4 linked regions of the Homo sapiens genome follow. The protein of the gene in region 1 interacts with the protein of each later gene in a pairwise test. Each region holds a gene or a part of one and is shown in the gene's direction. Other genes may lie near its edges.

Region 1 (7,188 bases):
TGAGCCTGGGAGGTCGAGGTTGCAGTTAGTCAAGATTGTGTCACTGCACTCCAGCCTGGGTGACAGAGCAAGACTGTCTCAAAATAAAATACCAATAAATAAATGAAGAACAGTACAGGGCATTGAAAAATGAAGTTATCTTGTAATACAGAGGATGACTTCTGGGGAGTCGTAACTGCCTTCATCTGGTATCACAAACGATCTGTATTAAGAATATATATAAAATGTTTCAGGCCAGGCTCAGTGGCTCATGTCTGTAATCCCATTCCTTTGGAAAGCTAAGACAGGAGGATTGCTTGAGCCCAGGAATTTGAAACCGGCCAGGGCCACATAGTAAAACCCTCTCTGTACAAACACTAAAAAATTAGCTGGGTGCGGTGGCTCCCGTAATCCCAGAACTTTGGGAGGCCGAGGCAGGCAGATCACTTGAGGTCAGGAGTTCGAGACCAGCCTGACCAACATGGAGAAACCCTGTCTCTACTAAAAATACAAAAATTAGCCCGGCATGGTGGTGGGCACCTGTAATCCCAGCTACTAGGGAGGCTGAGGCAGGAGAATCGCTTGAACCTGGGAGGCGGAGGTTGCAGTGAGCCGAGATAATGCCATTGCACTCCAGCCTGGGCAACAAGAGTGAAACTGTCTCAAAAACAAAAAAAAATTAGCCAGGCATGGTGGCACACATCTATGTTCCTGGCTACTCAGGAGGCTGAGGCAGGAGGATCATTGAGCCCAGAAATTGGAGGCTGCAGTGAGCTATGATCATGCCACTGCACTCCAGCTTAGGTGACAGAGCAAGACTATCTCAAGAAAAAAACAGATGTTTCATATTTCATAAAATAACTAGATTTCTAGTCATACACAGTTATCAGCATTATCTTAGAAATGTGCACTAATTATATGACTGTCTGATCTCTAGGTTTTAAGGGCAAGTCTAAACCCAATCTTCTAAAACAAGAAACCAGCAGCCTGGCCTGTTGTTTGAGGATCCTGTTTCGAATGTATGTTGATGAGAACCGCAGGGATTCCTGGGAAGAAATACAGCAGAGACTTTTAACGTAAGAAAATTAGTTTCTGATTAGATTTCTATCTGCTATATACAAAATGCATCACAGCAATACTGTGGATTGAAAAGAGTAAGAGAAAAATACATGCTGACACTCTGACAAATTTTTTTTTCTTTCTATTTGGTGACTCTCCCATTTCACTTTTCTTAATGCCCTGAAGAGGGCAGAGCCTCATCTGTTTCACTGTTAAGCCCTTGCTTGAGCCCAGGAGTGGAAGGGTGCTGTGAGCTATGCATAGAAACATGGACAGTGAAAAGTGCTCCGAGCGGTCAGCAGGCTGGATGGAAGTCCTGACTGTGGCTAGAGCCCTGTGGCCTTAGGCAGGTTACTATCCCTCTTGGGACCAGGTCCTCTTTAGAATTGTTGTCAGCAATAACATCCCATCATTCCTTCTTTCCAAGAAGAGTGTAATTGAAATCATATAACCAGGATGTGCCTACAAAATTATCTAGAAATCCACCAATGGGGAGAGAGTGGAATACTGATGAGGAAGCCCCAGCCAGAAAAGTAGGTCTTTGTCACTCAGCTTCCTGGGCATCAGCAAGATTCTGATGCCTGAGCTTTCTTTTCTTCCTCTAAGGTATAAAAACAGTAACACACAGTGCTGGCAAATGTGTGGTAAGAATGCACTCTCCTGCGTAGCTAGTTGGAGTGTATAATGGCATGATCTTTCTGGAAAGTAGGTGAGACTATATACCAGGAGCCCTAAAGTGTTCATTCTCTGTGACTCAGTAATTCCACTGTTATGGAATCTGCTTCAGAAAATATTTTAGAAATAGGAACCAGGAATACCACATGGAATATTCACTGCAGACTTATCAGGAGAAAAAATTTTAAGCAGCTCAACTGTGGAATGAATAACTAAGCTGTAATATGTCCTAAATTATGATATTATGAAACATAGTCATTAAAAGTGAATTTTTTTTTTTTTTGAGACGGAGTCTTGCTCTGTCGCCCAGGCTGGAGTGCAGTGGTGCAATCTCAGCTCACTGCAAGGTCCACTTCCTGGGTTCAACCAATTCTCCTGCCTCGGCCTCCTGAGTAGCCAGGATTACAGGCGCGTGCCACCATACCTGGCTGGTTTTTTGTATTTTTAGTGGAGATGGGGTTTCACCATGTTGGTCAGGCTAGTCTCAAACTCCTGACCTCAGGTGATCTGCCGACCTCCGCCTCCCAAAGTGCTGGGATTACAGGCATGAGCCACCGTGCCCAGCCTAAAAGTGAATTTTTTTTTTTTTTTTTTTTTTTGAGACAGAGTCTTGCTCTGTCACTCAGGCTGGAGTGCAGTGGCGTGATCTTGGCTCACTGCCACCTCTGCCTCCCGGGTTCAAGTGATTCTTCTGCATCAGCCTCCCGAGTAGCTGGGACTACAGGCGTGTGCCATCACACACCTGGCTAATTTTTGTGTTTTTAGTAGAGACAAAGTTTCACGATATTGGCCAGGATGGTCTTGAACTCCTGACCTCGTGATCCCCCCACCTCGGCCTCCCAAAGTGCAGGGATGGGCGTGAGCCACTGCGCCCGGCCTAAAAGTGAAATTTTTAAGAAATAATTTTACTTAATGTGGGAACTTTTTCATAATACAATAATTTTTACCCCAAAAAAAGCTGCAAAAGTGTTTTTACTTGGAATTTTCAGCAATTGGGGCATTTTATTTGTTTTTTTAGAGTCAGGGTCTTGCTATGTTGCCTAGGCTGGTCTCGAACTCCTGGGCTTACGAGCTCTTCCTGCCTCAGCCTCCTGAGTAGCTGGGACTACAGGCGAGCAATTTTTCTTTTGAAATCTTAGCAAAAAAAAAAAAAACTGGAAGGAAATATGCCAAAATATTGTCATGTATCCCTTAGAATGATGTAGCTATTTTTCTTTATAATTTTTTTCATAATTTTTTACATATATCAGTTACCTTACAATGAGAATAACAAGTCATAAAGTGAAAAAAGAATTAATTAATTAAAGGAGGCACCAATGGCTCATTTCAGCTTAAGCCCAAAAGACAAATACCTACAGTCTCATAAAGTTTCTCTAAAGGAGATATGTAGGGCCGGGCGCGGTGGGTCACATCTGTAATCCCAGCACTTTGGGAGGCCGAGCCAGGTGGATCACAAGGTCAGGAGTTTGAGACCAGCCTGGCCAACATGGCCCTGTCTCTACTAAAAATACAAAAATTAACCAGGCATGGTGGCAGGCGCCTGTAATCCCAGCTACTCGGGAGGCTGAGGCAGGAGAATCACTTGAACCCAGGAGGCAGAGGTTGCAGTGAGCCAAGATTGTGCTGTTGCACTCCAGCCTGGGCAACAAGAGCAAGACTCCGTCTCAAAATAAAAAAAAGAGATATGTAAATGTCAAGTTTTTGGCATGTTTTTTAAAAAAGCAATTAAATGTGATTGTGAGGAGAGAAAGGCAGTTATATAATTATGAGTAATAAGCTCTTGTGCTACAGACATTGATTGAGTTCAGCCCTAGCCATGTGCCAGGACTGAGCCAAGTTATGACTTAACATATTTACTTCATTTAATCCTCACAACAACCCCTTGAGTTTGGACTTTTTTTTTTTTTTTTTTTTTTTTTTTTTGAGATAGTCTCACTCTATCGCCCAGGCTGGAGTGCAGTGGTGCAATCTCAGTTTACTGCAACCTCCACCTCCTGAGTTCAAGTGATTCTTGTGCCTCAGCCACCTGAGTAGCTGGAATTACAGATACGCACCACCACACCCAGCTAATTTTTCTATTTTTAGTAGAAATGGGGGTTTGCTACATTGGCCGGGCTGTCTCGAACTCCTGGCTTCAAGTGATCTGCTTGCGTTGGCCTCCCAGAGTGCTGGGATTATAGGCATGAGTCACTGCACCTGGCCAGGCAATTTTTTATCTCCATTTTATAGCTGAAGAAACTAAGGCTCAGTGATTTGCCCAAGATAGCACAGCCAGAGTGGGTGCTCAATAGTTATTGCAGTGGCTGGGCTCAGAGGCTCAGGCTCACATCTATAATCCCAGCACTTTGGGAAGCCAAGGCAGACAGATTGCTGAGCCCAGGAGTTCAAGACCAGCCTGGGCAACGTGGTGAAACCCCATCTCTACTAAAAATCAAAAAAATTAGCCAGGCATGGTGGCGCAAGCATGTAGTGTTAGCTGCTTCAGAGGCAGAGGTGGGAGGATCAGCTTGAGCCCGAGGAGGTCAAGGCTACAGTGAACCTTGATCACACCACTGCACTCCAGCCTGGGCCGCAGAGCAAGACCCTGTCTCAAAAAAAAAAAAGTAATTAAAAAAAACATGTTAAAATAATTTTAAAAATAGCACAAGAATGAATAGTTCTCCCCTGAATGTGAGATGTTAATCAATTGTTTGATATGCCTCCCCCTCTCTAATTCTTCTAGTGTTTGCAGTGAAGCTCTTGCCTATTTCATCACTGTGAATTCTGAGAGCCATCGGGAGGCCTGGACAAGTCTCTTGTTGTTACTTCTAACTAAAACCCTCAAAATAAATGATGAAAAGGTATGAACAAGTAAACTCTGACCAATTTTCACTAGGACATAAAGTTTGGGTTGGCTTTTTACTCAAGAGTTTGCAGTAACTATTTTCTCAGTTCTCCCAAGGATGGTTACGTGACTAGCACCATTCTAGATGCATTGGAGAGAAGTTAATCCGTTATGGACAATGGGTGCCACAGGATATTAGGGCTTTTTGCCTGGAAGAACAGTAGTTGAGAACGGCTGAAGTGTAGACCTCATGTGTTGCTGTTAGGAATGGTATGGTGAGTTTCAGTGCAGGAAGAGAGGGTTAAGATTGTGAAGCACCAGTTTTGACCTAGGAACCTGCTTTACAAAATAAAAGAGCTGTTGACTTTTGGCAGCAAGACTATCCAAATTTAATTAAAGTTAAATATAACTGAAAGAAGCTTTAATTTGCAAGGTTTCTTCAACTTCTTTTTTTTTTTTTGAGACAGAGTCTTGGTCTGTCACACAGGCTGGAATGCAGTGACGTAATCTAGCTCACTGCAATTTCTGCCTCCCAGGCTCAAGCGATCCTCCCACCTCAGCCTCCTGAGTAGCTGGGACCACAGACACGCGCCACTATGCCCAGCTAAGTTTTTGTATTTTTGGTAGAGACAGGGTTTCACCGTGTTGCCTAGGCTGGTCTCGATCTCCTGAGCTCAAGCGATCCACCTGCCTCGGCCTCCCCAAGTGCTGGGATTATAGGCGTGAATCACTGCGCTCGGCCCCAACTTTCTAATAGCAAGAAAAGCACCAATATTGTAATAAGTTCCAGGGTGAGATTAACACTTCTGAAAAACTGGTGCCCAAAAAAAAAAAAAATTGTCTAATTTTATCTGTTTCTCTCCCACCTCAAGTTCAAAGCACATGCTTCAATGTACTACCCCTACTTGTGTGAAATTATGCAGTTTGACCTGATCCCTGAGCTCCGAGCAGTTCTGCGGAAGTTCTTCCTACGGATAGGTGTTGTGTATAAGATATGGATACCAGAAGAGCCATCACAGGTACCAGCAGCACTGTCACCAGTGTGGTAGCCCTGGCTGCCCAGGCCAGTGCTGCAGCTCTGCAGAATGTTCAGCATGCCATTTCTGACTGGCACATCTCGTGAAGTTTCATAGAAACAAGGAGTTGGCATCTTGGATCTCAGAATGGCCTGGAAACGGATGGCCTCTACGCTGTTCCATCACAGTCTCCAACTAAGGCTTATGGTATTTCATTAAACTGTTGCATACCCAGTTAGCACAGTAGGTGGGGAGTCTGCTTCATTTCTATCATTCCATTTTTCTGATTAAACTGTCAAATCTGTCATTGCATATGCCATCGTTTTCTAGCAAAATCCCATGATTGGCTATAAACGTTTTGTAAGAAGTCACTCTCCTTGAAAATACTGAACATAGCTGTATAGGTTTGTGATTATTAGAGAATATGTTAATAAAACTTCTTGTAACGGCTAACTGCCACCTAAAATATGCTGGGTTTTCTGTTGTTTGAGTGTGTTAGAGAAATTTGAATGTTTTTGTCAGTTACGAGTCAGCCGTAATTAGATTAGTTTAAGGACAGGTCAGGATTAGAGAAGAGTTGTTTTTGTGTTTTGTTAATGTCTGAGTGATTTTTAAAGTATTTTACAAAAAGATATTGAAAATTTGGTTGAAGGCAGAGTTTAGTAATTAAGTTAGAATTAAGAGTTTTGCGAGGTTAAAAAAATGTGCCTCGTGGATCTCCCTGTTTTAGTAACATGGAGAGAAAAAGTCTACACGAAAAAGTGAACAATTTAATGAAGATGATTAGCCTTCCTTGAAATAAGTATTTGTGGATGGGTGTTAAATTAAAATTTCCAGAATACACTGTCCATCTCACACACTCTGAAATCTAATATATGAAGTAGTAATGAAAATGAAGTAGTAATTTAACCAGAGTTCATTTATCCTTGAATAAACCTTTTTATTTTCACCTCAGAAAAGTGAGTGTACTGGCAGTTAGTGTCACTGCTTTGCACAGTCCCCATTAAAGGACCCTCCAGAGAGGGACAGTAACTGTGCATGAGAAGCCGCTCCCATAAGCCTCCTCAGCCAGATGTCATGGGTGGAACTGGAGCTGTGTCGGGGCCAGCACAGCTGAACTGTGACAATGGCAGGAGGTGGCATGTGCCCAGCACTTCCATTAATCTGAGCCTAGGAGTTGAATTCTTTGGCAAGGTTGGATTCTGAGGTCCTTATTATGTTAATGATGGTGCAATACTCTCACCTGCAGTAGAACTGAGTTCTGCTGCAGCTTGTGTAAAAGTGGGCAGTACACAAGTACGTCCCAAAGCCTGTGAGCAGTATACGTGGATGCTCACCCATGAGAAGGAGCACACACGCCTCATTCTCTGCCCTCACCCACTGCTCACCTAGAGCATCGCTGAGCGTTAGACAAAGTGTTACACAGAATGATTAAAACTTTCAGACTTCTACCTATGCTCTTTAGTCCTGTAAATTGGGTTGTATTGATGTCAACTCTGGTGCCTTAGAAGTTAGTAGTTTGGGAACCTATCTGTAAAATCAGATGTTTTTTCTTTGTAGAGAAGGATTTCTGGTGCTTTTGCTTACTAAGAGACCGATATTCTTAAGTTGTTTTCTTGTTTTAACAGCCTTGAG
Region 2 (7,188 bases), on another chromosome or scaffold:
CTAAATTCCACAGCTTAACTTTAAAGAACCTCCCCATAGTACATGTCAAAGCAGGATTCAAGGCTGCATGTCTTTACACTCCCTAATTTGAACTTAGGCTGGTCTTTTCACGGTGTCTTGAGTGATTATATTAGTTCACAACTTCAAACTTAGGCTGTTCTTCTTACCCTCCTGCCCCCAGCTCAGTATCACCATGAAGTTTGCTTTGCTTACCTATGTTGTACTATTTCAAGTCCTGCCTTCTCCAAAAGTTTCTCAAAAATGACTTTTGCCAACATATACCTCCCCTTCAGATTATTAAAGAAAATATTTGTAATCTACCCATAACTCTTACCGTTTCACTTATTTTGGCACCTAGTTATTGACTTGTTTTATGGTTTCTTAATTTGCTTTAATTTTCCAACAAGTAATAGATTGTAAGCTCTTAGAGGGCAGGGGCTATGTTCTGTACTTTTTAAGAAGCCTATAGGTGCTGAGCACAGTTCTTGGCACATCATGGGTGCTCAGTAAAATACTTGTTGAATGAATGAAACAAATACACAGGTATTCTTTCCTGCAGTATAAGCCCATAAGTCAGTCAGTGTTAAATGTGACTGTTTCCAGTGGTTACTTGTGACTTTACGTTGTTACTACTTATTCTTGTTTTTAGTGTCTGCCTCTTTACTCTTACTTTTTCATTTGACAAAAATGGAAGATAAATAAGATGAAATAAATAATTTTTGTTTGGAGAATAAAACTAAAATATTTCCATTTGCAGTCGACCCTCTGTATCCAGAGATTCAAGCAACTGCGATGGAAAATAGTCTTTAAAAAAGCAACAACAAAAAAATACAAATTTTTAAAAATAAAGTATAATAACTTTTATAGCATTTACATTGTGTAAGGTATTATAAGTAATGTAGAGGTAATGTAGAGGAAAAAATAACAAAGTAGGATATAGGCCTTGCAGAGAAATTTAGTGTATTGGTACCTTAGACTTACCTGACTGATTTGACAAATTTATTTGTTGCTGTTCCTTCTGAATTACCCTTCCTTTTGAGTAGCTACAGGATCCATGCCATTGAATTGGGCATTAGCCAGTGACAAAAAAGAGATAGAATTTTTGTTTTTTAGGTCATCTGCTCATAATTCTTGAATCTGGGTAACTTCTGGGTACATGTGGATGACTCAAGCAAGTACTTTTAAAAAATATCTTAACTCAGACCTAATGTCTGTAAATTCTTGACTCAATGTGGTTAGATTTTTGACAAATGTTAATAGTGAGACTACAAATACGTTTATTTTCATTATCTTTAGATAGCAGTTCATTTAAATATGAGCTCATCTATTCACAAACTTAGTGTGGAAAGATCTAAGGAGGACCACATCAGTTGAGAAGAATGACCGGCATCCCCTGCTCCCCTTTTGAAATTCACAAGGCATAATATTTACTAAAGTGATGAGAAGTCTTGCAGAAGCCTTTTACAATTTTTACTTAGTATTTCTGTCTTATTTGACCATCTCCCCCATAAATCTCCCACATAAAGCATTTGTTTTGCTTTGTGTAGCACATTGTATGAAATTAGCATTTTGTGAGAAATGCTGAATTAGGGCCCTTTATTCTTTTAGTTTGCTCTTTAGGAGAAAAAGGCAACATCAAAATAAGTTAGTGTTAACACACATATGCATAAACGAAACAGCTTGTGTAGTGCAATGAATGTATTCATTAGATAGTGGATCAAAAGAGGAAACAAGTCAATAGATTAACCTTTGATTTTTAAATTAGGCTTGTTGAATATCATGATAAGACTAATAGTAGTATTAATAGATAGTAAAGATTTGAGGCTAGGCACGGTGGCTCATGCCTGTAATCTCAGCACTTTGGGAGCCCGAGGTGGATGGATCACTTCAGGTCAGAAGTTTGAGACCAGCCTAACCAACATGGTGAAACCCCATCTCTACTAAAAATACAAAAATTAGCGGGACATGGTGGCGCACACCTGTCATCTCAGCTACTTGGGAGGCTGAGGCAGGAGAATTGCTTGAACCTGGGAGGTGGAGGTCTCAGTGAGCTGAGATCGCGCTATTGCACTCCAGCCTAGGCAACAATAGCAAAACTGTCTCAAAAAAAAAAAAAAAGATTTGGTACATATGCTACACCATAGCAGTGTACTAGGGATTTTGGGGTTTGTTTGTTTGTTTGTTTTGAGACAGAGTGTCTGTCACCCAGGCTGGAGTGCAATGGTGCAATCTCCACTTACTGCAACCTCATCCTCCCAGGTTCTCCAAGTAGCTGGAATCACAGGTGCGTGCCACATGCCTAGGTAATTTTTGTATTTTTAGTAGAGTCAGGGTATCGCCATGTTGGCCAGGCTGGTCTCGAACTCCAAGGCGCAAGTGATTCTCCTGCCTTGGCCTCCTAAAGTGCTGGGATCACAGGCATGAGCCGCCTTGCCCAACCTGTTTTTAACCTAGAGAAATAGGTCCATGTTGTGAAGGTTTATAAGTAGGAATTAATAGATGACATTCCAAGTAGAAATTATCAGTCTCATTCTTATTTTTTTCCTTACCTTTATTTTTCTTTTATTCAGTACACATTTAAGTATCTTGGGTGTGGTACCTAGTGTACAGGTGATGTATGCCCTGCTCTCAAGGAGGTCATTCCTGAGATGCCATTTTGAACTCATTTTTGTCTTCTAACTGCTGATTTGGTTGTTATGGTATTTCCGTACATTTGGAAATCTAGTGGCTATGAATATTTTATACAGGTTGAGTATCTGTAATCTGGAAACCAGAAATGCTCCAAAATCTAAAACTTTGAGTGCCAACATGACACTCGAAATAAATGCTCATTGGAATGTTTCAGATTTTTGAATTAGGGATGCTCAACCAGTAGGTAAAAAGGCAAATATCTGCAAATCTGAAAAAATCCCAGTCTGGTGTCAAGCATTCTGTATAAAGGCCTCTCAACCTGTATTTGCCTTCTTTCGCTGTCTGGTCAAGTACTTGTACATTATGTATCACTTATTTTAAGCAAGTTAGTTGTACTTAGCAGTTATTAGAGATGTGATTGTTGGAAGTGAATGTTCAGTGTTGCAAAGTGAAAATAGCACTCAGGCAAAAGTTTTCTCAGCAAGGCAGTTTACTTCTGTAGAAGGGTGTGTCTTGCAGATGGAGCAATCGTGAGATGGACAAGGGAGGGGAAGAGGTTCTTATTCTTAACACAGCTGGTCCCCACTGTTGTGTCTTTCCCCTACTGGCTAGGGTTGGACCGCACAATCTAAAGTGACCCAGTTGACTAATGTTTGAAATTGAACCCAGCTGTCTAGGCTGGAAGGGAAAGGCTATCCATTATGACACAATGCATGTCTAGGAGAAGGAAGAGTTTATCTGAATAAGGTGGAGGAGAGCTGAGGAAGGTTTTGGTGAGAGCTGTTTTTATAAGTCTTTGCACTAAACTATGAGTACAGGGTATGATACAGCATCCTGTAAGAATGAGCACACCTATAATGGCTGTAAGAGAAGGATTGAGGCTATGATTCCTTTTCATTTACTGAACTACCTCTCTAGCCATGTTGAGAAAGGGTTATCGACTCCAGAATTTTTAGTTAGTTCATTGGATAAAGCGGTAAGTCTTTGTAAGACGCTTATTATGTTCCCAGTGGGGTCAGTGTTGTTTGGGATAAAGGTACAACAGTGAATTTTAATCATAACACAAACATCCCCTATTTTGGCTAATATATCTAGGGCCATTCTGTTTTCTCAGGCCATCTGGCTAGTGGGCCCCAATTGTTCTGTTACCCTTTGACAGCATCCGTGGTGTAATTATAAACCACTGCTGATTATAATAAATGTAATTTATCCAATCTACGTTTTTATTAGTTGTCACTCACAAAAATATTGACTCAAATCCTGCAGCTATTTGATCTCGAGTTTTAAATTTAAGAGCATTCACATCTTGATATCCTGTCTCAGTTGCCAAAGTTTGTTTTAGGTCTTTAACTTCTACAATAGCTACCTTGGTCTTTTCATTAGATGGAGGAGGAGCAATAGTTTTGTTGTGAGAGGTTTTGGAAGAAGGCTTAGGGGAAAGTGTAGGCAGTAGGGGATCAATGCAGCATATTTCAAAGGATCCAATAGGTTCTGTTCCTGAAACCTCAGCCCCCATGCCATAAAACTGGCTTAAAGAAGGGAACCGGCTTATAGAAGGGGAAGAACTTGGAGGGTTTGAGATAATAACCTGTATTGGACAGTACTGGTTTAGCTCACAGCTAGGGGAAGCTGTTTCTTTAGTAAAGTGAATGTATGGCTTTAGGAAATTACAGCTACTGGTTGGGGCAGTTTATCCGTGCTCTTTAGTGGTCTACAGAACGTTTACAACTACTGGTTGGGGCAGTCCATCTGTGCTCTTTATTGGTCTACAGAACATTGGACCAACTGCAGCATAAAAGCTCTGTCTTGGCGGGGTGTGGGGGGCAATACTCCCAGTTGACATTGGGGTCTTTATTGAAACCTTTCCAGACTAAATGATCCCGATTCACTAATATCCAGTCTGAGCAGAGCCAGGAAGGACAGAGGTACTTTTTTGGAGTGGAGAGCTGCTTCGACGTGTCAAGTCTCCACAGGGTATAACAAGGCAAGCATCAAATATAATAGTTTGAGGCGAAATTGACTCGGTTACATTAATAATGAGGTGATCAGCAATAGAGAGGAAAGAAGAAGGAGTAATAGAATAGATGAAAGAGAGTTAAATTTTCCTTAGCTTTAGTTTGGTAGGGTTTTCCCCTGGGACTATGGCCCATGACTCTGGAGGGGGCGGCACTTTTTTGACTCGGGTGTGATGGGTCCATCCTTTTTTTGCTGTCTGGACTGTGGTTTCAGTAGTTAGGTGCACTAGGTATGGTCCTTTCCAGGCCAGTTTGAGCTTTTCGTCCTAGTTTTTGATGAGGACGTGATCCCCAGGCTGATGTTGATGTACTGGGAACTCCAGGGACAGTGCCTGTGCTAGGAGACCTTTGGTTTTAAGAGGAGAGAAAGTAGAAGATATACCAAGTATATAATTTTTAAGGAATTGGTCTTTTGTTTCAAAGGTAGGAATGTCCGCAATGGAGTGTAAATAAGGCATTCCATAGAGCATCTCGTAAGGGGAAAGATGAATATCTTTCCAAGGGGCAGTTTGGATTCTTAACAGGGCAATAGGAAGACATTTGGTCCATGGTAATCAATTCTCCAGAACCAACTTGGTTAAGTGGTTCTTCAGAGTTTGATTCATTCTTTTTACCCTCCGTGATGAAGGTGGGTGTCAAGGAGTATGATATTCCCATCTAATGTCTAGTGTTTGGGATAGCTTTTTAATGATGTGTGTGGTAAAATGGGTTCCACTGTCTGAGTCAGCATTTTCTATTAACCCAAACCTAGGCACTATATTTTTAGTAAAGGCTTTAACTACATTATTGGCTGTTGCATTTGAAAAGGGATAGCTTCGACCCAGTGACTGAGGTGATCTGTCACTAGTATGTATTTTAGACGCCCTGTTGGAGGCATCTCTGTGTAATCAATCTGGATACTTTGGAATGGACTGAAGCCTGGACTCCTTCCCATAAGGGGTAATCTTTTTATAGTTTATTAGTTTTCTTACAAACTAAGCAACTGTCTGTAACCTGTTTGGCCAGGGTATAAATTTCTGTGCTCCCATAAACTGAGGACTCCGTCACACATGGCTTGGGGCCCCCAATGGATCTCTTGATGCAGTTAGGATAAGATTTCCCTCATAAGGGGTTTGGATAACATTTCTCTCTGGTTTGGCGACATCCGTTTTCCTTCTGAATTCTCTTTAGCACCTATTGTTATTAGGGTTTTTTTTTTTCATTAGAAGAAAAAGGGGGATCACGGTAAGAGGAGGAAGGTAAGGAGTTAAGTGAAAAATAGGTGTTTTAGAGGAAACGGCAGCCTGTTTGGCTATCTGATCTGTTAGGTTATTTCCTCGACTTTCGAAAGAAAGGCTTTTCTGGTGTCTGGGGATGTGGACAATAGGTATTTCTTCTGGCAACTGAAGGTTATTCAATACTTGAGTGGTTAGCTCCTTATGAGCAAGGTCTTGACCTTTACTATTAATGAGGCCTCGTTCAGTCTAAATTTTTCAAAATGTATGAGCCACTCAAAAGGTGTACTTAGAATCTGTACAGATGGGTCTTTTCTGGTTCTGCAAGTACTTTAAGGTTTGGCTGAGTGCGAACAGCTCGCAAGTTTGGGCAGACCAATCACTGGGCAATTTTTTTGGCTCTCTTTCTTTGAGAGTTTTTCTGTCAATTACTGAATACCCATTGTGTCTTTTTCCCTCAATCACCTGGGAGGAACCATTTATAATAAGTGTCCTCCTGTCCTGAAGGGAGTTTCTCCTAGGTCTGGTCAGACATTTGTGTGGTAATCGATTAAATCTAAACCTGTGTGTTTTTTCTTTAGATTTGGATCCCCTGTTAGGAAACCTGCTGGGTTAAGCAAATTATCAGTGGTTAATGTTAAATCAGCTTTTTTTTTTTTAACGGAATAGCCTCATATACTTTTAAGATTCTTGAGTCAGCAGGCCACCTCCCTGCTTTCTGATTTAAGATAGTTCTAACTTAGTGGGGCGTGCTTACTGTCAATTTTTCTCCAAAGGTTAAGTTTTTGGTTTCTTTGACCAATACTGCTGTAGCTGTAATGGATTGGATGTATTGAGGCCATCCACAAGTAACTAGATCTAAGACTTTTGACAGGAAGGCCACGGGCTGCCGACAGCCACTGTGTTCTTGAGTAAGCACTCCCAAAGCTACCGCATTATCCATGTTCACAAAAAGGTGGTACGCTTTTCTAGGGAAGGTAAGGCTAAGACAGGGGCAGTTATGAGCCTTTCGTTCAGCTCTTTGACCTGATCGACTTCCTCAGAAGTCCACAGGAGATGGTCAGGCTTCCCCTGGGGAAGTTTTTGATATGAAAGTTTACTGTGCATATGAGTTAATCCATAAGTGGCAACATCCAGCTAACCCTAAAAATTTCCTGAGTTCTTGTTTAGTTTGAGGCAAGGGTAGGGACACAATTCTCTCAACTTGTTCGGGCCCTAGTCTGCACTTATCAAGTGGCCTAAATATTTAACTTCAGGCTCCACATACTGAAGCTTTTCCTTTGAGACTCGTAACCCCTTGAACTGCAAATGGTTAAGAATATGTGTAG
Region 3 (7,188 bases), on another chromosome or scaffold:
TGGGAGTGCAGGTGTGCACCACCACACCCAGCTAATTTTTGTATTTTTAGTAGAGACAGCATTTCACTATGTTGGCCAGGCTGGTCTTGAACTCCTGACCTCAAGTAATCTGCCCGCCTCGGCCTCCCAAAGTTCTGGGATTACAGGTGTGAGCCACTGTGCCTGACCTGAGATAGATTCTTAGAGAATTATTGGTAAGAATAATTCTCTAAGCTGAGCTAAATAGTCTACACTGAAGAGGACTGCCTACTGTTATTTAAGGTGCTTGCAACCATATAAGCACGTACTGCCTGGGAACTCTAGATGAGGATTTCTCAATTTCAGCGCTGTTGATTTTTTTTTTTTTTTTTGAGACAGGGTCTCTCTCTATCACCCAGCCTGGAGTGCAGTGGCACCATTACAGCTCACTGCAGCCTAGACCTCTTGGGCTGAAGTCATCCTCCTGCCTCAGCCTCCTGAGTAACAGACTACAGGTGTGCTCCACCATGCTTGGCTAATTTTTTTATTTTTAGTAGAGATGGGGTCTTGCTACATTGCCCAAGCTGGTCTCTAACTCCTGGGCTCAAGTGATCCTCCTACCTCAGCCTCCCAGAGTGCTGGGATTACAGGTGTGAGCAGTGCTGACATTTTGGACCAGGTCATTCTTTGTCGTTGGGGGCTGTCCTGAGCAGTTCAGGGTGTTTGGCAGCATTCCTGGCCTCTGCCCACTAGAGGTCAGCAGCTCCCTTCCCTTTGTTGTGACAACCAGCTTCAGAACTTGCTAAATCTCCCTGGGTGACAGCGTCACCCCAGTAGAGAACCTCTATTCTAGACTAAGCCTCAGCTCTCAAGGATTTTTCTTATTTTATTATTATTTTTTTAAGACAGGGTCTCGCTCTATCACCCAGGCTGGAGCGTAGTGGCGCAATCTTTGCTCACTGCAACCTCTGCTTCCTGGGTTCAAGCGATTCTCCTGCCCCAGCCTCCTGAGTAGCTGGGATTACAGGCGTGCACCGCCACGCCTGGCTAATTTTTATATTTTTAGTAGAGACAGGGTTTCACCATATTGGCCAGGCTGGTCTCAAACTCTTGACCTCAAGTGATCAGCCTGCCTCAGCCTCCCAAAGTGCTGGGATTACAGGTGTGAGCTAGTTTTTCTTATTTTTAAATTTTTTTTTGGTAAAATAATGAAGTTTATTTATTACATATTTATTTTCAAACTGGCATCTTGTTAGTAATTCTGTTTCTTTCCCCACCTAACATTTTGTTTACTATAAATGATTGCAGTCATCATCCTAAAGCATATGCAAAATCTCCCTTCCCCTGACTCACGTTTGATGTACCTGCCTCTGGATATTTTTGAAATACCTTAGGGGGAGAAAAACAGTAGTTTTAAGAGCTAGTGGACAGTTTCCAGGTCTTAATGAATCTGACAACCTGCAGCCCAGGGCCAAGAGGAATGAATTCTCTTTTCCCTGCTCTCTTGATGAACTCACTGACCAGCCATGGGCGGGCAGGTGGGCAGGCAAGGACCCCTGGCCACCAGGTGCCAGTGCATCAGCTGCATGAACTCCTGGCACCAGAACTGCCACCTCTACAGACATGCTCAAAAGACAAGTTTGGACCGGGTGCATTGGCTCACACCTGTAATCCCAGCACCTTGAGAGGCCGAGGTGGGTGGACCCCTGAGGTCAGGAGTTTGAGACCAGCCTAGCCAACATGGTGAAACCCTGTCTCTCCTAAAAATACAAAAAAATCACCCGGGGGTGGTGGCAGGCACCTGTAATCCCAACTACTCTGGAGGCTGAGGCAGGAGAATTGCTTGAACCCGGGAGGTGGAGGTTGCAGTGAGCTGAGCTCGCGCCATTGCACTCCAGCCTGGGAAACAAGAGCGAAATTCTGTCTCAAAAAAAAGACAAGCTTGGAGGATTGTCCAGAACCACAGATCCAGGGTAGGAAAAGCCCAAGCTTAGGAGCTGAAGACCCTGGTTCAATCCCGGGCCCAGAGATCATTTATTCTATGGCTTTAGGTAAGCTATTTATTGATACTTCTGTGGGCCTCAGTTTCATTATTGGTAAAAATTATTTCATTATTGGTAAAATTAGGACTTAAGTCCTAATCCTTAAGTCAGAACAGATCCAATTCTTAGAGAAAAAGGATATCCAGAGAGAACTTTCTGCGGTGTCTGGGACGAAGGCAGTGCCACACGAATGGCAGCTGTGAGTAATATTCCTCCTCTCTGGAAATGATTCCCGGGAGGGACTAGGGCAACGAGAGCCACTCCAGGTCTGAGAACATGGAGAACTTGAGATCAGTGCTTTTGGAAGTGTGGTCAACACAGTTTGTCACCAAAGAGATAAGGGTCTGGCACCCAAAGATAAATCAATGATGTTACGAAGCACACTGTTTAGGTCAGTTGGCGTATTTTTCCAGAGCAAGGCTTCTCAGGCTGGGCGTGGTGGCTCACACCAGTAATCCCAGCACTTTTTGGGCAGATGGGTTGAGCCCAGGAGTTCGAGACCAGCCTGGACAACACAGAGAAACCCCGTGTCTACAAAAAATACAAAAATTAGCTGGGCATGGTAGCATGTGCCTATAGTCCCAGCTACTCAGGAGGCTGAGGTTGGAGGACAGCCTGAGCCTGGGAAGTCAAGGCTGCAGTGAGCCGAGATCTCACCACTGTATTCCAGCCTAGGCAACAGAGCAAAACTCTGTCTCAAAAAAACAAAAACAAAAACAAAAAACCCAAAAGACTTTCTGGATGACGGAAGCAGTGTCTAGATTCACATTCTGAGGCAAAACCTTTATTTTGTCGTGGACAATTCCAGTTTGTGGCCCTTCCCTTAGGGAAGCACTGCTTTTGTTCCCGCTGCATGTGCTAACTTCCATTCATTCATGGTTCTATCCCTTTGTAGCCTTCCCTTCACACTTCTCACTTGCGTTTCTTCCATCTCTGGGCAGACTGTTCCACCAACAACCCCTCCCAGGCTAAGCTGCGGCGGGAGCTCGACGAATCCCTCCAGGTCGCTGAGAGGTTGACCAGGAAATACAACGAGCTGCTAAAGTCCTACCAGTGGAAGATGCTCAACACCTCCTCCTTGCTGGAGCAGCTGAACGAGCAGTTTAACTGGGTGTCCCGGCTGGCAAACCTCACGCAAGGCGAAGACCAGTACTATCTGCGGGTCACCACGGTGAGCTGTGTCCCGGCCACATGCTGTGGCTCGGGAGCCCGAGCTGTGATCGGGAGCAGGGGCATGTGTGCTTTTGACTGAGCATTTATCACACGGCAGAAAATAGAAAACTTTAGGCGCCCCTGTTGCCTTGAAGCCTCATCACCCACTCAGGGAAAATATAACCCTGCTTTACAAAGGAGCAAAGTAAGAGAGGTTCCACAGCTTGGCCAAGGTGTGATAGCTGACAGATGACTTGGACGGGTATTTGAACCTGACTGCCTGGCTGCCAAGCCTGTATTTTGTTGTTGTTGTTTTTGTTTTGGTGCACAAATCTGTGAATAAACCAGAAGCCTCTGTTCTTTTCTCAAAGCTACAAGGCTGCCCTCTGGCATGTAAAATGGCTTATGAATTAGTACATCACTCTCTGCCAGTGATAAAAACTTCTCTCTAGGCCAGACATGGTGGCTCATGCCTGTAATCCCAGCACTTTGGGAGGCAGAGGCAAGAGGATTGCTTGAGGCCAGGAATTTGAGACCAGCCTGGGCAACACAGCAAGATTCCCTCTCTACAAAAAATACAAAAATCAGTCAGGTGTGGTGGCACACACTTGTAGTCCCAGCTATTCAGGAGGCTGAGGTGGGAGGATTGCCTGAGCCCTGAAGTGGAGGCTGCAGTGAGCTGTGATCACGCCACTGCACTCCAGCCTGGGTGACAGAGTGAGACTCTGTCTCTTAAAAAATATATATATATAAAATAATAAAATAAAGTTAAAAAATCAAATAAAACTTATTTCTAGTACTGGGAACTCTTCTTTTTCTTTTCTTTCTTCCCTCCAGGCCCTCTGGATTCCTTTTCTACCCTACTCTGACCAAGGGCTGCTTCTAAAGCAAATGTTTGGAAACCACTTTTATTCTTTGGGGTGCTCCCTGGGCTGGTCATTTGCAGATGACATTTGCCCCAACACATGAGTGTCTGTGAACCAGGTCCGTTCTGTCCACTGAGCTGTACTTACGTCTAGATGTATAAGAAGCATGGGGTCAGCTCTCTAGGTTTCCTTGGAGAAGCAGGAGGACTTCCTTATCAGAAGCCTGACTTCTGTTGCAGAGCGCATGCATTTTGACCACAGTGTTTCAGCTCTTCCCTTTTCTCTTGTTCCATTTAGGTGGCTTCCCACACTTCTGACTCGGACGTTCCTTCCGGTGTCACTGAGGTGGTCGTGAAGCTCTTTGACTCTGATCCCATCACTGTGACGGTCCCTGTAGAAGTCTCCAGGAAGAACCCTAAATTTATGGAGACCGTGGCGGAGAAAGCGCTGCAGGAATACCGCAAAAAGCACCGGTAAGCAGGCGGGCCTTTCCTGCGGGCCTGCAGGGCCCAGTGAGTCTCTGGGAGCCACAAAAAAACAAACAAAGTGCAGACTCTATAGCCTGGTGGGAACGACTCCGCCCGGAGCCAGAGCCCAAGAACAAAGCCAGGAAGTTACGGGGGAATTTTATTTTTCCTTTGGAGGATGTTTTACTTTGGAGGATAACTGTTTTTTATTTCAGGGAGGAGTGAGATGTGGATGTTGCTTTTGCACCTACGGGGGCATCTGAGTCCAGCTCCCCCCAAGATGAGCTGCAGCCCCCCAGAGAGAGCTCTGCACGTCACCAAGTAACCAGGCCCCAGCCTCCAGGCCCCCAACTCCGCCCAGCCTCTCCCCGCTCTGGATCCTGCACTCTAACACTCGACTCTGCTGCTCATGGGAAGAACAGAATTGCTCCTGCATGCAACTAATTCAATAAAACTGTCTTGTGAGCTGATCGCTTGGAGGGTCCTCTTTTTATGTTGAGTTGCTGCTTCCCGGCATGCCTTCATTTTGCTATGGGGGGCAGGCAGGGGGGATGGAAAATAAGTAGAAACAAAAAAGCAGTGGCTAAGATGGTATAGGGACTGTCATACCAGTGAAGAATAAAAGGGTGAAGAATAAAAGGGATATGATGACAAGGTTGATCCACTTCAAGAATTGCTTGCTTTCAGGAAGAGAGATGTGTTTCAACAAGCCAACTAAAATATATTGCTGCAAATGGAAGCTTTTCTGTTCTATTATAAAACTGTCGATGTATTCTGACCAAGGTGCGACAATCTCCTAAAGGAATACACTGAAAGTTAAGGAGAAGAATCAGTAAGTGTAAGGTGTACTTGGTATTATAATGCATAATTGATGTTTTCGTTATGAAAACATTTGGTGCCCAGAAGTCCAAATTATCAGTTTTATTTGTAAGAGCTATTGCTTTTGCAGCGGTTTTATTTGTAAAAGCTGTTGATTTCGAGTTGTAAGAGCTCAGCATCCCAGGGGCATCTTCTTGACTGTGGCATTTCCTGTCCACCGCCGGTTTATATGATCTTCATACCTTTCCCTGGACCACAGGCGTTTCTCGGCTTTTAGTCTGAACCATAGCTGGGCTGCAGTACCCTACGCTGCCAGCAGGTGGCCATGACTACCCGTGGTACCAATCTCAGTCTTAAAGCTCAGGCTTTTCGTTCATTAACATTCTCTGATAGAATTCTGGTCATCAGATGTACTGCAATGGAACAAAACTCATCTGGCTGCATCCCAGGTGTGTAGCAAAGTCCACATGTAAATTTATAGCTTAGAATATTCTTAAGTCACTGTCCCTTGTCTCTCTTTGAAGTTATAAACAACAAACTTAAAGCTTAGCTTATGTCCAAGGTAAGTATTTTAGCATGGCTGTCAAGGAAATTCAGAGTAAAGTCAGTGTGATTCACTTAATGATATACATTAATTAGAATTATGGGGTCAGAGGTATTTGCTTAAGTGATCATAATTGTAAAGTATATGTCACATTGTCACATTAATGTCACACTGTTTCAAAAGTTACTTTTTCTTTTCCACTGTTATGTTGCTAGACTCTGGAACTCACTATATTCAGTGGGTTTTTTGGTTGCTGCTTCCCCCCCCCCCCGCCCCCCGAGACAGAGTCTCACTCTGTTGCCCAGGCTGGAGTGCAGTGGTGCAATCTCGGGTCACTACAACCTCCACCTCCAAGGTTCAAGCAGTTCTCCTGCCTCAGCCTCCTGAGTAGCTGGGACTACAGGCACGTACCACCACACCTGGCTAATTTTTGTATTTTTAGTAGAGACAGGGTTTCACCATGTTGGCCAGGCTGGTCTCGAACTCCTGGCCTCAAGCGATCCGCCTGCCTCAGCCTCCCAAAGTGCTGGGATTATAGGCGTGAGCCACCGTGCCAGGCCTTTATATCCAGTGTTTTGGATTTTTTTTTTACACTCTTAAATACTAGCACCCTGAAAGACAGATCCTAAAGCTGGCTCTAAAGCTTCCTGAGACCCCTTCTCTGCACCTCCTTACCCCTCTGCACAGTGGCCTGGGGTTGGGGGTCCTTAGATGTCTCTCCATCCCTGACAGAGGTTCCAACATGAGGCACTGGGAAGACTGAGTCAGCACATGATGTCACCAAGGTGTGGGGATGAGATGAGGCTAATTCTGCCTGGGGGACTGCGGACCCTGAGCCCTTAGTGTCTGGCTTCTAGGACTCTTGTGGCAAAGGGGGAGCAGGGCTTGATGTGCTGAGAAGAGAGGGATTTGACATCTGTCTGGAAAGGGAGGCAGCACCAACCCTGCTGAGCCCCTCTGTTGACACTCAACTGTCATCTGCCAGAAAATTGTAATAAGATACAATCTCTCATGGGTACAAGGTGAAACGGTGCTGGAGTTGTGCAGTGCATGGCTTGTACAACTGTAAACAGTGGCCTTGGGCCAATTACTTCATGTAATCTCACTAGGTTTCAATAATTATTTCCAAGGCAGGAGTTACTTTCCCCACATTACAAAGACTTCCCAGAATAGCCTGCATCAGATAAGTGTCTTGGGGCTAGGAAGGCCAGAATGGGGGAGCAGCCACCCCAAGCCTTTGTGGCCCACGGAGCCTGCTGAAGGGACTTCAGGGTTGCCCATCCCTCACTGTGAAGTGGCCCAGAGTAGGAAAGGGGTGGGAGCCAGGAAGCCACCCAGGT
Region 4 (7,188 bases), on another chromosome or scaffold:
CGACCTGAGCCCTCGCCTGTTCTGATTATGATGCCACTCCATATTTTTGACTTCTCCTGGTGGATCTTGGTCCATCTTCATTACCCTCTGTCCTTTCAGAAATGAGCTGAAATCCAGAACAAGGAGGGTCGGTAGTAGAATCAAGGCTCCATTTGGAGAAGGAAATGACTCCTTTCCTTCATCCTTGTCCCCAGCGTCTCTGGTGGTCTCAGGGAAAGGCCTGCTCACTGTTGGGGAGCTGGGTGCGGGGCCTGGGGGGCAGGTGGAGGGCCGCTGCTGTTTTCTCTCACTCATTTCCTAGGTCTTCTTATCTCCTCTCTGTGTGGCTCTGGTGACAGGGACGATCCGTAAGGCTCAGAACCTTCTGAAACAGTATTCCCAGCATGGTCTAGATGGGAAAAAGGGGGGCTCTAACCTCATTCCTCTGGAAGGTAATCACCCTGTGTTCCCCTCCTGTCCCTTCCTCCTCCACTGTGTGTCCACGCACTTGGCAGGGCAGAGCCTCCCCCAGGAGGGCCTCGGGAGAAACCCTGAGGGGAGCAGGGTGGGAACGGCAGGTCCCCGATGCCACTCGGGCTTCAGCGGGCACAGGGACAGTTTCGCAGCCCTCGGCCTGGTCCTCTCTGGCTGATGGCAGCTCTGCCCTCCCTGAGGCTTCCCTCCTCCCTTCCCTGTCTCTGTCCTTGTCTCCTGTGTGAACTCAGAAAAAGTTATTTGTCTTGGGGCAGCCCTTTCACGCTCAGACCAGCAGTGGCAGGCCCCAGCTGGCCGAGGCCTCCCGGCCTTCCCATCTTTAGAAAGGGGAGTGTGTGCAGCAGAGGACAGGCAAACTGGGGCTTTCCCCAAATACAGCGAGGTGGGGAACCCCCCTGGGGCCAAGCATCAGCTCTTCAGCCCCTCCTTGGTCCTTCTCCGCTTTCCCTGGGCCTCCAGGCTCGGGGAAATGAGCAGCTAAGGACGGTCCTGGGTGCTCACTGAAGTCAGGCTTGAAACGGCTGTTCCCAAGGTGGCTTGAGGTAGAGGAGGGGCTCAGGGCCCTCTCCGATGCCCCCTTCCCCATCCCCATCTGACGTCCCCCTCCTGGAGATGAAGGGCTTCTTCCCTGTACCCCAAGGGGCGGCCTGCCTGGCCCCTGGATAAACGCTGCTTGTGTTTGTGCGGCCGACATCTCGCCAGGTCACGAGCATGATTTCCGAGTTAAGCACCTGTCCGAGGCCTTGAACGACAAGCACGGGCCGCTGGCCGGTGAGTACCGCAGCCCAGCCCGAGGGCAGCCGCTGACACTGCCTTCGCAGCGGTCCCCGGATGGCCTGCTCCTGCCTGGCCCAGCTGGGCCCACTCTGCTCTGAGGATGGGCCAGGCCTATGCGCCTCTCTCTCCACTCTCTCTCTTTTGGGCCTAGGTCTCCTTGCCTCTCTCCAGATGGGAGTGCGTGCCTGTCTGTCAGGCCTGGGCCAAGGGGAGAAGCCGCTGCTCCTCGGAAAGCAGGCAGAGAGGGAAGGTGGCTCCCTTGAGGGCAGGGAGCCCTGACGTCCGCCTCCTGCAACAATTCAGAGCTCTGATCCCCTCGGAGCCCATCCCTTGGCACATAGGACCAGGCAGTTCTGCCGCCGGTTTTGCCTGCAGGCGCCCCCGCCGTGGCCTCCAGTAATAGGGTCTGGCCTCCTCCTGGGGCAGCTGGCAACCCCTCCTCTCTGGGACTTACCAGCCTCTTAGATTTTGACCCCATGCCAGCCAGCCTCAGAAGCTGCAGCCAACCACCCTCTTAGATGTTCCAGAAGCCCTGACTGGGCTGGTCACTTCCTTCACAGGCCCCGCATTTGCCCACATGGATGACCCCAGTGCCAGCCTCCTTGAGGTGGCACAGCCACCTGCCCACCCTGGGCTGCCCTCTTTCAGGTACAACTCAGAATGCTCAGTCCTGGGGTCAAACCACCTTATCCAGGACGCTGATTCAGGAATCTTCCCTCCTTATCTTTCCATCCGTCACTCTCCTGCCTCTGGTGTCTGATCCCACTGTCTGCGCAGAGCCGAGAATGAAGCCAGAACAAAGGCTGGGCTCAGCTCCTTTTATTCCCCTCGAACCTGGCGGGGCCTGCTGGCTCCCTTGCAGCTTTCTGCCAGAACAGTCAGCCTCTTCCCCATCCTCTGCCAGTGTGGGGTACAGGCCAGGAGCTGGGGGACCCACGCCGCCCCCAGCCAGGAGTGTGGCTGGCCCCAGACCAGCAGCTCAAGAGTTGTGCCATCCCCCAGGGAGAGATGACATGCTGGACGTGGAGACCGATGCCTACATCCACTGCGTCAGTGCCTTCGTCAAGCTGGCGCAGAGCGAGTACCAGCTGCTGGCCGACATCATCCCCGAGCACCACCAGAAGAAGACCTTCGACTCCCTGATACAGGTCCCGCCCCGCCCCGGGGGCTCTGCAGCCAGCCCCAGCAAGAGCTGTCACAACAGACTCTTGCAGCCCTCAACTCCACCCACCACCACCACCTCGTGCCCTGGGGACCGGTCCTGGGTGGACGCTCACCACCTCCCCGTCACCCCTCTTCCTGCACACTGGCCCCCCTACATACTGCAAGGATCCCCCACTAGCCCAGAACTAGCTCCCACCGCCCCACCCTTCCCTGAACTGTCTCCCTGCCCCCTCAGGATGCCCTGGATGGGCTGATGCTTGAAGGGGAGAACATCGTGTCTGCTGCCCGGAAGGCCATTGTGCGACACGACTTCTCCACGGTGCTCACCGTCTTCCCCATCCTGCGACACCTCAAGCAGACCAAGCCTGAGTTTGACCAGGTGCTCCAGGTATGTGGGCGAGGGGCCCTCAAAAACACAGCCAGGAGGCATCGTGCTGCCGGGTGTGGCCGCCCCATCCCTCCCTGGGAGAACCCCATTCTCTGTCCCACACTTCTGCTCTGAAGGTGCATGGAAGCAGCTTAGGAAGGGCCCTGGGTGAGTGAGATGCTCACAGAGCGACTGGAGGTGAGCTGGGGGCTCCCCTGTGCTTCCTCAGGGCACGGCTGCCAGCACAAAGAACAAGCTGCCTGGCCTCATCACATCCATGGAGACCATCGGTGCCAAAGCGCTGGAGGACTTCGCAGACAACATCAAGGTCCCTGCTGTCCTCCCCTTTCTCCCTCCCTCCCGGCCCAGCACCACAGTGACCTGGCCCTGGGGGACTCTCAGAGCAGGCCTCCAAGAGGGTGCGTTGTCCCGGGGCAGCCAGCTGCGCCACTGGCCTGTCAGCACCCATGTGCCTTCCTTTCCTTCCTGGGGCCTCCAAGCCCTCTGAAGTGGGAAGGGCCTCTCCCCCTTGGTCCAGCCTGGCTCAGCCTTTGTGCCTGAGAGGTGTCCTAGCACCCGTCTGCCAGGAGGCGGCACCATGAGCAGGTGCACTGGGGCATGGGGTGGGCTGGGGGCTGCTTCAGGGAACCAGAGGCTGTTTTTCCACAGAATGACCCGGACAAGGAGTACAACATGCCGAAGGACGGCACCGTACACGAGCTCACCAGCAATGTGGGTGCTGCCTGAGGACACCAGGGAGAGGGGAGGAAGGAGGGCCCAGGCCCAGGCCCAGGGCCAGGCAGAGTACTGGTGGAAGGGACTCAGCCTGGCCCAGAGCCGCTCGCACCTTTGTGAGCAGTCCTGGGTGGCAGGATGGACAGTGACATGTTTAGTGTCTCTAGCAGACAGGGCCTTTCCTGGCAGGCTAGAGTGAAAATGAAGTTTCCAGCCGCGCTCTTCACTGGGCGGATCCCAGCCCTGGGCTGGCCCTGGGCACTCAGAGGGGTCGCTGTGGGAGGCCGTCGGCCGGGCCTGCCACTTGCCCTTCTGCACCGTTTTCTTCCCACCCAGGCCATCCTCTTCCTGCAGCAGCTTTTGGACTTCCAGGAGACGGCAGGCGCCATGCTGGCCTCCCAAGGTACTGGTACCTCCCAGTTGGGCCCCCTGCCCCACTCGCCTCCTTGCCTGGAGACATGGGGTTAGAGGGCAGGTAGCAGTGAGGAGGTATCTCCAGTCTGTGGAGGGGTTGAGGTGTGCTCAGCAGAGGGTCCCTGGGGCTGAGCATCAGGAGAGCAAGGTTTGCCTGCACCTTTCAAGACCAGACACTGGACCTCTGGCCCCTCCCTCAGCCCCTTTGACCGTCCTCGCCCTGGAAGCAGTGTCCTCACTCTGGGAGCGGTGCTGGTTGGTTGGAAGGTGTCCTTTCTGCCCCTGCCCCCCTCCCAAATCCTTCTCTCGTGTCTGCCTGCTCTCCTAATCAGGCTCGCTCAGCTGGCCTTCAGAGGGTAGCAAGTGTCTCAGGGCCCGCTGGGCGTCTTCCTGCTGGCCCTGCCCTGGGACTGGAGCTCAGGGGGTTGGCCTGTAAGCAAGAGCACCTTTCTGGGTCATTCCAAGCACTGAGGTCCCTGGGCCCTCTCCTCCCGTCCCATTTTGGGGGCAAGGAGCCTGTGGGCAGCCTCCAGCCTGCAGTTCTCAGCTCTCTACTTTCCAGGGTGTTCCCTGGTCCTCAGAGGGTCCCGCCTGCTGTGTCTTGCTATCTGTGTTTTGGCTGTCGTGGGGAGAGGTCTGCTTAATTCGGGTTGACATGCCGTTTCTAACCTGTTTTTTGCACTTTGCATCTTTCTCCCTCCTTTGTCTCTCCCTCTGTCCCCTCTGTGTGCACTGCCTTTCACTCCGTAGTTCTTGGGGACACATACAATATTCCTTTAGACCCCCGAGGTAAGCAGTGCGGTTCTGCAGCCCCCTCCTGTCCCTCTGAAGCTTGGTGGGTGAGGTTCCCTGGGGACTGACTCTCAGTACCTACTGGGGAGCCTGAGTCAGAGGGGACATGAGTTTTCTCGGGGTGCTCTCAACTCTCTCTGCTCCCTTCAAGGCCACTCTGTCTCTGAGCTTATCCGCAGCACCTGCCCAGGCTAGAGCCCTGGATACACCCCCTAGGCTCGCCCGGCCTCCCTGCCTTGCTGTCCCCACTCGGCCTTCCCCACTGTGCAGGCCGCAGCTTCGTCTGTTCAGTAGGGTCTGGTAGAGGGGATGTTCGAATGTAGGGGAGAAGGTGGAGAGGCTGTGGGGAGCCCATTCTAAGACTCTGCTGTTGACAAAAGGAAAAAGGGGGCCTTGTAGAAACCACCCAGGGTGGGTGGGGGCAGGAGGGGACAGGGCGCTGGCATCTCACTCTTTTCCTGCCAGCTTTTCTGCTGACATGGGCCAGCTCCATCCCATCATAGAGGGCAGCTCTGGGTTCCAAAAACTCCAGGGCTGGTGCTTCCTGCGGCAGGGGCCACCCTGTGGCTTAGCAGGCAGCCAGCTCTGCCCAAGGAAGCCCAGGGCCTGTCTCAGTGTCCCCTCAGACTGCTGCATGGCCTGGGGGAAGGGCCGTTGAGGGTCTTGGCTGCTGCCACTGCAATAACAGGACTTCTCCTCTCACAGAGACCAGCTCTTCGGCCACCAGCTACAGCTCTGAGTTCAGCAAGCGGCTGCTAAGCACCTATATCTGTGAGTGTTCTCCCGGGCAGACCAGCAGCCCTGCTGCCTGCATGCCCTGCCTTTCCCTTCCTTCTGTCTGTGCTCTCTGGCTATTCCCAGGGCCCTCTCCTAAGTGCCATCTGATCTTTGGAACCACAACCTGACCTCTAGTTCAGAGGCTGAGGGGAGTTGGGCTAAGGCCTCCTGAGGCAGGACGAGGAGCGATGGATAGGAGCGCGTTCGCGGGTCCTGGGGTGGGGTCGTTTGGGTCAGACTGCCATGGTGGGTGTGGCCCCATTTTTCCCTGTGCAGGTAAAGTGCTGGGCAACCTGCAGTTGAACTTGCTGAGCAAGTCCAAGGTGTACGAGGACCCAGCTCTGAGCGCCATCTTCCTGCACAACAACTACAATTACATCCTCAAGTCCCTGGAGAAGTAAGTGGCCTGCGGGAGTGAGTCTGCGGCTCTCACCTTCCCCTCGGCTGTGCAGCTGTGCCAGCCCCTGCCCCCCTGGGCTCCTTCTCTTGTGGACGAGAGGGGAGGGGGTGCTTCAGTCTCCTCCACCCCAGGACCCGGAAGGTGGGATGCCATAGAGCTTGTGGAGTTTGGGGTGCAATGGGAGGCCCTCCCGGCATTGCCGCAGCCTTTGGGCCTGAGGAGCCAATCCTGTCCTCCTCTCCTCTGTCCCCTACCCCGACCCAGGTCTGAACTGATCCAGCTGGTGGCAGTGACACAGAAGACTGCTGAGCGCTCCTACCGGGAGCACATTGAGCAGCAGATCCAGACCTACCAGCGCAGGTGAGAGGCTGGGCCCGCCCTGCTCCTGCATGGGCCCCTGTGCCACCACGCACTCTTCCTTCTCAGCACCTCAGGACACAGAGTCGGTCACGGGGAACTCCTGTCCTCTGGACCCTAATCCTCCACTTGGTTTCTAATCAAACTCACGGGGTGGAGAGAGAAGCCCCCTCCTCTACCACTACCTGCTCCTAGGGGCCCACTATGGCCACTTTAGAGGGGAGTCTGCCAAGTGTCAAGGCTAAGAATGATTGAAGAGCTGGCTCTCAGAGACGTGGGTAATGTTTACCTAGGAGAAGAGCAAGGTCGCGAGAGCACTTGAACGTGGCTGAGCCTTGCTCTGTGAGGATCCCGCTGCTTCTCTGGTCCTCTTTCTTCCTGGCTTTGTTTCTTCCCTTTGAATGTGTCTACCTCTTCCTTCTCATTTATCTGCCCTCCACTCCTTTCTTTCTCATCTGTTTCTCCATCTTAGTTTGCCACGATATTGATGTGAAGTATAGTTGACAGTATTTGTCCAATTTATTGAACACTCAAGTGTTTCCTAATGTTATCTCAAAAAGTGACCAGTTTAAAGATTTTCTCTTCCCAGGAAGAAAACCTGTTGTTTGCTTAGTTGTGACCCACATCCCTTCCTACCACCACCCACCAAGTAGATCCAGAGATTTAGCAAACGAAACAAGCCAGGCCACTGAGGCAGGCCACCCTCTGCCCTCATGCTTCTCTTTCTGTCTGGCAGCTGGTTAAAGGTGACTGATTACATCGCAGAGAAGAATCTACCTGTGTTCCAGCCGGGAGTCAAGGTGGGCTCAAGACCTGGGCTGGGAAGGGGTGTCTGGCAGACGGGATACTTTTTGTCGTGTCTCTGGGAAAAAGTGGACAAGCATCCCTCTGGGATCAGAGAGCAAAGGATGCATGTGGCCATCAGGACACA

What was found.
Region 2: the proteins of ARFGEF2 (region 1) and PRPF40A interact in a two-hybrid assay, tested with the Homo sapiens proteins (one large-scale study listed by BioGRID and IntAct).
Region 3: the proteins of ARFGEF2 (region 1) and CLU interact in a two-hybrid assay, tested with the Homo sapiens proteins (one large-scale study listed by IntAct).
Region 4: the proteins of ARFGEF2 (region 1) and EXOC7 interact in binary tests that used the Homo sapiens proteins (3 or more experiments, as listed by UniProt).

What each region holds. Positions count from the first base shown.
Region 1 is NC_000020.11:49,027,614-49,034,801, forward strand, and holds part of ARFGEF2 (brefeldin A-inhibited guanine nucleotide-exchange protein 2), read left to right. Parts: intron 1-916; coding exon 917-1,055; intron 1,056-4,435; coding exon 4,436-4,553; intron 4,554-5,409; coding exon 5,410-5,586; 3' UTR 5,587-7,188. UniProt on the Homo sapiens protein: Promotes guanine-nucleotide exchange on ARF1 and ARF3 and to a lower extent on ARF5 and ARF6. Promotes the activation of ARF1/ARF5/ARF6 through replacement of GDP with GTP. Involved in the regulation of Golgi vesicular transport.
Region 2 is NC_000002.12:152,705,000-152,712,187, reverse strand, and holds part of PRPF40A (pre-mRNA-processing factor 40 homolog A), read left to right. Parts: intron 1-7,188.
Region 3 is NC_000008.11:27,595,763-27,602,950, reverse strand, and holds the end of CLU (clusterin isoform 1 preproprotein), read left to right. Parts: intron 1-2,941; coding exon 2,942-3,171; intron 3,172-4,315; coding exon 4,316-4,491; intron 4,492-4,700; coding exon 4,701-4,710; 3' UTR 4,711-6,034; downstream 6,035-7,188.
Region 4 is NC_000017.11:76,084,386-76,091,573, reverse strand, and holds part of EXOC7 (exocyst complex component 7), read left to right. Parts: intron 1-338; coding exon 339-431; intron 432-1,092; coding exon of another isoform or gene 1,093-1,245; intron 1,246-1,402; coding exon of another isoform or gene 1,403-1,530; exon of another isoform or gene 1,531-1,832; coding exon of another isoform or gene 1,833-1,899; intron 1,900-2,253; coding exon 2,254-2,399; intron 2,400-2,650; coding exon 2,651-2,803; intron 2,804-3,011; coding exon 3,012-3,110; intron 3,111-3,451; coding exon 3,452-3,514; intron 3,515-3,853; coding exon 3,854-3,920; intron 3,921-4,681; coding exon of another isoform or gene 4,682-4,720; intron 4,721-5,428; coding exon 5,429-5,494; intron 5,495-5,776; coding exon 5,777-5,897; intron 5,898-6,164; coding exon 6,165-6,260; intron 6,261-6,993; coding exon 6,994-7,057; intron 7,058-7,188. UniProt on the Homo sapiens protein: Component of the exocyst complex involved in the docking of exocytic vesicles with fusion sites on the plasma membrane.